Regions from separate parts of the Homo sapiens genome. Here region 2 is linked to region 1. Evidence: fine-mapped expression QTL. A gene starts in region 1. The other region holds a variant in brackets. All regions are shown on one strand. Distances are between the middles of the regions.

What was found. PIP is the estimated chance that this variant, and not a neighbour inherited with it, causes the effect.
Region 2: its variant is the best candidate, but not a certain one, in a credible set for the expression of B9D2 in whole blood (TOPMed, PIP 0.75).

What each region holds. Positions count from the first base shown.
Region 1 is chr19:41,361,846-41,366,228 of GRCh38, reverse strand. It overlaps B9D2 (B9 domain containing 2), which reads left to right and starts at 2,080. Exons shown (of 4, transcript NM_030578.4): 1 at 2,080-2,271; 2 at 2,706-2,797. The coding sequence starts at 2,710. It also overlaps a transcript of TMEM91 not described here. RefSeq lists an enhancer at 2,105-2,224.
Region 2 is chr19:41,417,283-41,421,665 of GRCh38, reverse strand. BCKDHA (branched chain keto acid dehydrogenase E1 subunit alpha) reads right to left here. Exons shown (of 9, transcript NM_000709.4): 5 at 2,370-2,531. Among named protein-coding and RNA genes, the nearest start is that of B3GNT8, 7.9 kb to the left of the region's middle. The variant G/A (reference allele first, on the strand shown) is at 2,377.

The sequences.
Region 1 (4,383 bases):
TGTCTACCTCACCCACACAGCATCCAGAAATAAATAAATAAATAAATACATTTTCCCCAGCTCCAGCTTAAAGGACAGAAAGATCATTTAAAAGTGAAACCTCTGCCAGGTGCAGAGGCTCACTCCAGCCTGGGCAACAGAGCAAGATTCTGTCTCAAAAAAAAAAAAAAAAAAAAGTAAATAAATAAAATAAAAAAGAAAATACAAAAAGTAGCTGGGCCCAGGCGAGGTGGCTCATGCCTGTAATCCCAGCACTTTGGGAGGCTGAGGCAGAAGGATCACATGAGGCCAGGAGTTCGAGACCAGCCTGACCAACATGGTGGAACTCCATCTCTACTAAAAGCACAAACATTAGCTAGATATAGTGGTGGGTGCCTGCAATCCCAGCTACTAAGGAGGCTGAGACAGAAGAATTGCTTGAACCTGGGAGGCGGAGGTTGTGGTGAGCAGAGATCATGCCACTGCACTCCAGCCTGGGCGACAGAGGGAGACTCTGTCAAAAAAAAAAAAAAAAAAAAAAACCCGGCCGGTCACGGTGGCTAACGCCTGTAATCCCAGCACTTTGGGAGGCTGAGGCGGGTGGACCACCTGAGGTCAGGAGTTTGAGACCGGTCTGGCCAATATGGTGAAAACCCGTCTCTACTAAAAATACAAAAATTAGCTGGGTGTGGTGGTGCACGCCTGTAGTCCCAGCTACTCGGGAGGCTGAGGCAGGAGAATCTCTTGAACCCGGGAGGCAGAGATTGCAGTGAGCTGGGATCGCACCACTGCACTCCAGCCTGGATGACAGGGGGAGACGCCATCTCAAAAAGTAAAAAACCAAAATTATAACGAGGGTACAACATTTCAATAGGATAACATTTATATTAAACAATTCAATGGAATACTTCACTAGTTGATATATGCATTATTAATGGGGTCTCCCTATATTCGAACTTCTGGCCTCAAGAGCTCTTCCCGCCTCAGCCTTCCAAAGGGCTGGGATTACAGTTATGAGCCACCGCGCCTAGCCAATGGTAGCTTGTAAATACTTTGTATCTATTGGCCTGGCTGGGTGGCTCACGCCTGTAATCCCGGCAGTTTGGGAGGGAGAACTGGGAGGATAGCTAGAGCCCAGGAGGTCAAGACAAGACTGGGCAACATAGCAACATAGCAGGACTCCATCTCTTAAAAAAAAAAAAAAGAATTAGCCAGCCGTGGTGGTGCATGTCTGTGATACCAGCTACATGGGAGGCTGAGGTAGGAGGATCCCTTGAACCCAGGAGTTAAGAGGCTGCAATGAGCTGTGATCGAGCCACCGTACTCCAGCCTGGGTGACAGAGTGAGACCCTTTTAAGGAGCCTTGATGGGACCTGATGACTGGCTTGATGTGGGAAATGATGGCATCTAGGATGGCATCCAGGGACAACATCTCCATTTCTTGATTGATAAATCAATCAATAGGAAAGAGGATTTTCTGCAAATAAGGGAATCTTAGTTCCTCATTTCTCTTCGCTACCCCAACCGCTCCTTGCTCAGAATCAAGCAGTAACAGTGAACTTGGTAGTAGCTCCGAGAAGGAAGTTGGACTTATCCAACTTCCTTCCTTCCTTGTCCTTGAGAAACCTAGGGGAACTCTAAAACGGAAGCAGAACCCACTCCCCAACTTCTCCACTCTCTGAATGAGGAGTGATTTTTTTGCTTTGTTTTCCAGTTACAAGGCCGGGGATGTACACGAGGTCCTGGAAGGAATTCCCCCTTGGTCCTGGTTCAATCTCTGATTTGTGATCCCGGACCACAGAGAGCTCTTCGGTGGGGTAGGCGCAGCACGGAGCAGTTAGGGATTTGCTTTTTTGGTAAAGAAGGTATCTGGGAGAAACTGCACTCAAACTTCCTCAGCCACACTCAACATGGCAGCTTCCTAGCCACGCCCAAAATGGCGGAACCCTTTGCCGTAGCTGGAGAGACGCTATTTTCCCAAAATGGAGCGGAGGAGGAAAATGTCCATCACAGCTTCACCCCGCCCCCCGCAGACGGCTAGCACCAATTAGTAGCGCGCAGAGCGAGTACAAAGCTAGGGGAGGAGCCTGCTGTTGCCCCAGCAACAACCACGGAAACCAAGACGAGCGCGGTCGCGGAAGTATCGCGGCTTACATATCTCGCAGCCAGGCGGGTCCTGGGAGAGGCGCGAGCCAGGCCTGGTCGGCGCCCGCGGAGAAAAGAAGCAGTCAAGCCCATGAACTACAACCCCGGTTGCCGCTTTCTCCTCTCCTAACCGTTAAGTGCGCTAAGGTAGGAATGACGCATGCGCTGCGCTTAGAGGCGGGGTTAAGTCGGACCTGAACTCATAACGCATGCGCCTTATGGAGCTTGCTGGGGGAGGGAAGCGGGGTGGCTGGCGTGACGCGGAAGGCGGGTCTTTTGCGCTCGTGGGCGGAGCCATAGCCCCTTCGGGCGGGGCTTTCCGCCGACCTGAACCCGAAAAGGTTATTTTGGACTTCCCAGAGTTAAATGCTGGTTCCCCAGACAAGGGTCCCCCCATTTTTTCCAGGCTTTCATGGGTTGGCAATTAGGATCTGTGGTCAAGACCTCAGCCTCAGGGGTGTGACGAAGCTAGCTTGGAATCCTAGTACTACCCTTTACTTGCTGGGCCTCAGTTTCCCCCCCGTCAAATGGAGATAATACACTTACCTCACAGGGTTGTGATTATATTTTTCCCCTCCCAGGGCCATGGCTGAGGTGCACGTGATCGGGCAGATCATAGGGGCCAGCGGTTTCTCGGAAAGTAGCCTCTTCTGCAAGTGGGGCATTCACACAGGTATTCCCCCAAGCCTGGTTCATTTCCACACCAAGACCCCTAGCCTAGAGGCTACATGCTCCTTCCTCCACCCCTTAACGCAGACTCTTAACCTCATTTCCATCAGTTCTCAGTACTCCAGGCCCAGCCCACACCCTGTCCACATGAGTCTCAAGCTCCCATCTTTGTGTGTGTGAGGGGTGGGATACAGACAGGGTCTCTCTCTGCGCCCGGGCTGGAGTAAGGTGGTGTGATCATAGCTCAGTGCAGCCTCGAACTCTCGGGCTCTAGTGATCCTCCCGCCTCAGCCTCCTGAGAAGCTGGGACTACAGACACGCACCACCAAATCTGGCTAATTTTTTTTATTTTTTGTAGAGACAGGGTCTCGCTATGTTGCCCAGGCTGGTCTCGAACTCCTGCGCTCAAACAGGCCACCCACTTCAGCCTCTCAAAGTGCTAGGATTAAAAACGTGAGCCGCCACGTCCCAGGAAAGTAATTTTGTTCATGCTTCCCCAACTGAGGCCCTATAGAGTCATGGTATAGTGTAATGGTTAGGGTCATGGGCTGCCAGATCTGCATTTAAATATTAACTCCCCCACCTATTAATTGGAGACCTTTGGACTCGACCACTTTGAGCCTCAGTTTCCTTGTTTCAAAGTGAAGCTAATAGTAGCTAAGAAGCAGCACAGGTTTGAGGTTAAGAGCACAGACTGCCTGGGTTCAAAACCAGTTATTGCTTGTTAAGGCACCCTTGGGCTGATTATGTGAACTTGGGCACTTCTCTTCACCTCGACTTCCTTGTTTGTACAATGAGAGTCATAGAAATATTTACCTGTTGAAGTTGTCATGAGTACTAAACGAGTATCAACAGCACTTAGAATAGGAATAGGGCTGGAATAGGAAGTGCTCATTCAGTGTTTGCCTGGCTTATACAAGACTTTGATGGGGTCTTGTTTGTAAAGCCTGGGGTATGTTGTTGCGTGGCACAGATGAATGTCTATGAAACAGATGTGGCCATTTGGCATTATCATGTCTTCAGGCCTGAGTCCTAGTCCCTTTTTTTTTTTTTTTTTTTTTTTTGAGACTCGTTCTGTTTCCCAGGCTGTAGTGCAGTGGTGCAATCTAGCTCAGCCTTCCAGGTTCATGCCATTCTCCTGCCTCAGCCTCCTGCATAGCTGGGACTACAGGCGCTCGCCACCATGCCCGGCTATTTTTTTTTTTTTTGTATTTTTAGTAGAGATGGGGTTTCACTGTGTTAGCCAGGATGGTCTCGATCTCCTGACCTTGTGATCTGCCCATCTCGGCCTCCCAAAGTGCTGGGATTACAGGCGTGAGCCACTGCGCCTGGCCCTTTTTTTTTTTTTTTTTTTTTTGAGACAGAGTCTCACTCTGTAGCCAAGCTAGAGTGCAGTGGCACGATCTCGGCTCACTGCAATCTCTGCCTCCTGGGTTCAAGCGATTCTCCTATGTCAGCCTCCCGAGTGGCTGGGACTACAGGCACCCGCTACCATACCCAGCTAATTTTTGTATTTTTAGTAGAGATGGGGTTTCACCATGTCGGCCAGGCTGGTCTTGAACTCCTGGCCTTAAGTGATCCGCCTGCGTA
Region 2 (4,383 bases), 55 kb before region 1:
GGCAAAGGCCTTGAGGCCCCACCCAACCTGCACCATCTGCACCCCCACCCACCACCTCCTGGACTTTACCTCCAACCACCCCACACCTGCTCACCCTACACCCGCTCACTCCACACCTGCTCACTCCACACCTGCCCCTCTGGGCTCCTCCCAGCTCCTCAAACACGCCAGGCTCACACCTGCCTCAAGACACCACACAGCTCCCCCCTCACATCCTCTGGTCCATACTTCAGTGTCACTCCAGTGACGGACCCCAGCCACCCCTACAGTGCACCACACCCGGCTGGCTTGGCTGCTCCCTACAGGACCCCCACCCTCATATACTCCAGGAGTTCCCTCTCCATCTCTGTTACTGTCCGTCTCCCCCACCACAATGGCAGCACCAGGAGGGCTGAGGTTTGCGTTGCTTTTGTTCCCTGCACTTGGAGTGGCACCGGCACATGGCAGGAACTTCGTGTATTTGAAGTGACTTAGCAGGGACCCAGAGGGAAGGTTAGGGCCACGCCCCAGCCTTGTGGAAACCCTATTACCTTTAGCTCAAATGCCCCCTAAATGCCCCCTCCTCTGAGAAAGCTTCCCTGCCCACCTCCCACCTAAGAGGCTCAAACTGCTTCTTGTTCCTCAACAAAAGAACACTATGAGCTAAGGGGTGTGGAGCCTCCTGCTGTGCTGGGCACAGTGCTGAGGCCTGGAGAGACACAAACTCATGCATCTCAGCTGCCCTAGGGCAAAGAAGCCAGGGCCCAGACCAACCCTAGATCAGGCTACAGGCCCCGGAGGACAGGAAGGGGCTCCGATTCCTTGTTCTCCACACTATGAGGGTGCAGGCCTGGCACCCAGTGGGTTTGCTTCCCAAAAAAGCTCTTATAAGGGAAGGGACTTCAGGGCACCTACGGTAAGCTTTGGGGAAGCTTACTTGACTCTGAGGACTGAGGCAGACAAAGGTCAGGGCCAAGAACCCAGGCTCTGGAGGTACACAGTCAATGACTTGAGTCCCTGCTCCTCTCCCTCTGTGCCACATGACCGTTAGCGAGTGACTTCCCTCTTTGACTTCAATTTCCTTTTTTTTTTTTTTGAGACAGGATCTCACTTTGGCTAGAGTGCAATGGCACGATCTCAGCTCACTGCAAACTCTGCCTCCCAGGTTCAAGCAATCCTCCTGCTTCAGCCTCCTGAGTAGCTAGGATTACAGGTGTGCACCACCATGCCAAGCTAATTTTTGTATGTTTAGTAGGGACAGGGCTTTGCCATGTTGGCCAGGCTCCTGCACTTTTTTTTTTCCCATTCACTTGCTGTCTCTCACACACACACAAAACACGGGCATCCTGCTCTTGAAAACAGGAACAAGAGCAAATAATAACCTCTGTCCCCATGGCCACAATGAGGGTCCTTATTAGATGATGAACGTGAAGCATTGGCACAGTGGAACCTGGTGCACACGTTGGCTATGTTTGTGAGCAGACAAATGCAGTAGGCATGTGGTTGGGAAATCCAGAGTGTGGTCACACAGGCTTCAGGCCCCTGAATGGGGTGGGGACAGCAACAGAGCCCTCTTCTGAAGGGTCCCAGACAAGAGGTGCATTCAAAGTCTGGAACACAGGCCAGGTGCAGTGGCTCACATCTGTAATCCCAGCACTTTGAGAGGCCAAGGTGGGCAGATCACTTGAACTCAGGTTCAAGACCAGCCTGGCCAAAATGGTGAAACCTTATCTCTACAAAAAATACAAAAATTTAGCCAAGCACAATGGCATATGCCCATAATCCCAGCTACTCAGGAGGCTAAGGCAGGAGAATCACTTGAGCCTGGGAGGTGGAGGTTACAGTGAGCCGAGATTGCACCATTGCACTCCAACCTGGCTGACGAGAGTGAAACCCCGTCTCAGACCAAAAAAAAAAAAAAAAAAAAAAAAAAAAAAAAAGTGGGCTGGGCACAATGGCTTAAACGCCTGTAATCCCAGCACTTTGAGAGGCTGAGGCGGGTGGATCACCTGAGGCCGGGAGTTTGAGACCAGCCTGGCCAACACGGTGAAACCCTGTCTCTATTAAAAATACAAAAATTAGCTGGGCGTGGTGGTGCACACCTGTAGTCTCAGCTAATCGGGAGGCTGAGGCAGGAGAATTGCTTGAAGCTGGGAGAAGGAGGCTGCAGTGAGCTGCGATAGCACCACTGCACTCTAGCCTGGGCAACAGTGCAAGACTCCGTCTCAAAAAAGAAAAAAATAAGAAGAAGAAGTCTGGAGCACAGACCAGGGCTCTAGTGGTGTCACCAACCCAGAATTCCACCCAGAAGGCAGGCAAAAGAGCTGAGGCCTGGACAGGGGTGTGACATTGGTCTGCACATGTGCAAGGTACAGGGCATGCATCCTCACCCTGAGG[G/A]ATCTGCGTGGCCAGTGGAGAGGAGATAGTGACGAAGTGGCGTTCCTTGCAGCCGTAGTGGACAGGCATCTGGCGCCCCTTGCCCAAGTCACTGATGTTGCCATAGCACTGGGCCATGAATAGTTCCAGGGGGTAGTCCCGATACATCAGCACACCTAGGAGGGGAGGAGGCAATGGTTAGCCGAGTGGGCAGTACAGGGGGACAGTTCAGCCCTGTGGGTGACCTGCAGCATGCTGGCAGGCAGACAGGAAAGCTCAGGCTTGTTTTAAGAGGAAGACTGATGTTCAGACTGACTGACTCTGCCCAGCAAGGCCAATCTGATTTTTCAAAAGAAAGCAGAAATCTAGCCTTTTTCTTTCTTTCTCTTAGTGAGATATTGTCTGGTATTTAAGTGCTTTCAACTAATTCAATTACCTTTAAGAAATATTCTAACCATAAATCATTACTATGGCCAGGCATGGTGGTTCATGCCTGTAATCCCAGCACTTTGAGAGGCTGACGTTGGAGGATCGCTTGAGCCCAGGAGTTGGAGACCAGCCTGAGCAACATGGTGAGGCCTCGCTTCTACAAAAAAAAAAAAAAATCAAAACATTAGCCAGGCATGGTGATGTGTGCCTGTGGTTCCAGCTACTTGGGAGGCTGAGGCAGAGGATTGCTTCAGCCCAGAAGTTCAAGGCTGCAGGCAGCTGAGATCGTGCCACTGCACTCCAATCTGGGCTACAAAGCAAGACCCTGTCTCGAAAAAAAAAAAAAATCATCATTATGAACCAAATAACAGCATAGACCACTAATTTACAACTTCTGGACTACAGAAGTACTCTAACCCATGTATGGCAGTAAAACCTTTTCTTCAAACAAAACCTCTGGTGAACACCCACCTCCCCATCAAAGGGAACCGCTCCAGGTTAAGGGGGCCCTTCCTCCGAAGTTAGAAGACAGAAGGGGGTTTGTGATTGCCCTCAGACAAGCTCTTTGCCCCGCCTGAAGAGTGGGACAACCTTCACACCAACACTTTAGGGGCAGCGCTGTGGATCAATGCTGCAAGCACTCAGACCGGGAACATTATTCAGAGGGAGCTCTCTAGTACAGTGCTTTCCAAATCCTTTCTTTACCGCAGAACCCGCTCTTTAGATACAAATTTAATGGAGATCACATTACACACAGCAGTTACCTTTTTTTTTTTTTTTTTTTTTTTTTGAGACAGAGTCTGGCTTGGCCACCCAGGCTGGAGTGCAGTGGCGCAATCTGAGCTCACTGCAACCTCCACCTTCCAGGTTCAAGCAATTCTTATGCCTCAGCCTCCCAGATAGCTGGGATTCCAGGTGTGCACCACTAGATCTACCTAATTTTCTTTCTTTTTTTTTTTTTGAGACGGAGTTTTGCTCTTGTTGCCCAGAATGCAATGGCGCAATCTTGGCTCACTGCAACCTCTGCCTCCTGGGTTCAAGCGATTCTCCTGCCTCAGCCTCCTGAGTAGCTGGGATTACAGGCATGTGCCACCACATCCAGCTAATTTTTGCATTTTCAGGAGAGACGGGGTTTCTCCATGTTGGTCAGGCTGGTCTCAAACTCCCGACCTCAGGTGATCCACCCACCTCAGCCTCCCAAAGTGCTGCAATTACAGGTGTGAGCCACCACGCCCAGCCCACTTGTTGATATTTTAGTTAGAGTTGAGGGTGGTTAGCACTACTTCAACATCCAACTTTAATACAGGTTTACTGGTATTTTCTGACACATGCTTTTGAATGGACATAATACAAATCCACACAAGATGTGGCTGTGCTGCATATGTAACAGATAGAAACAGGAGTTGCTCTGGTTAAGGAGGGAAAGAAAGGTCTTGTAGAGGGTCAAAGAAGGTCCAAGGGACTGATACAGGACCTTGGAATCAGGCTTTCTCAGAATGTGGTACTAGGTCCACCCATGTGAGAAGGACTGGGCAGGGGCAGGGGAACGTGCTAAAAGTACAAACTTGTCAGGCTCAGTGGCTCGTGCCTGTAATCCCA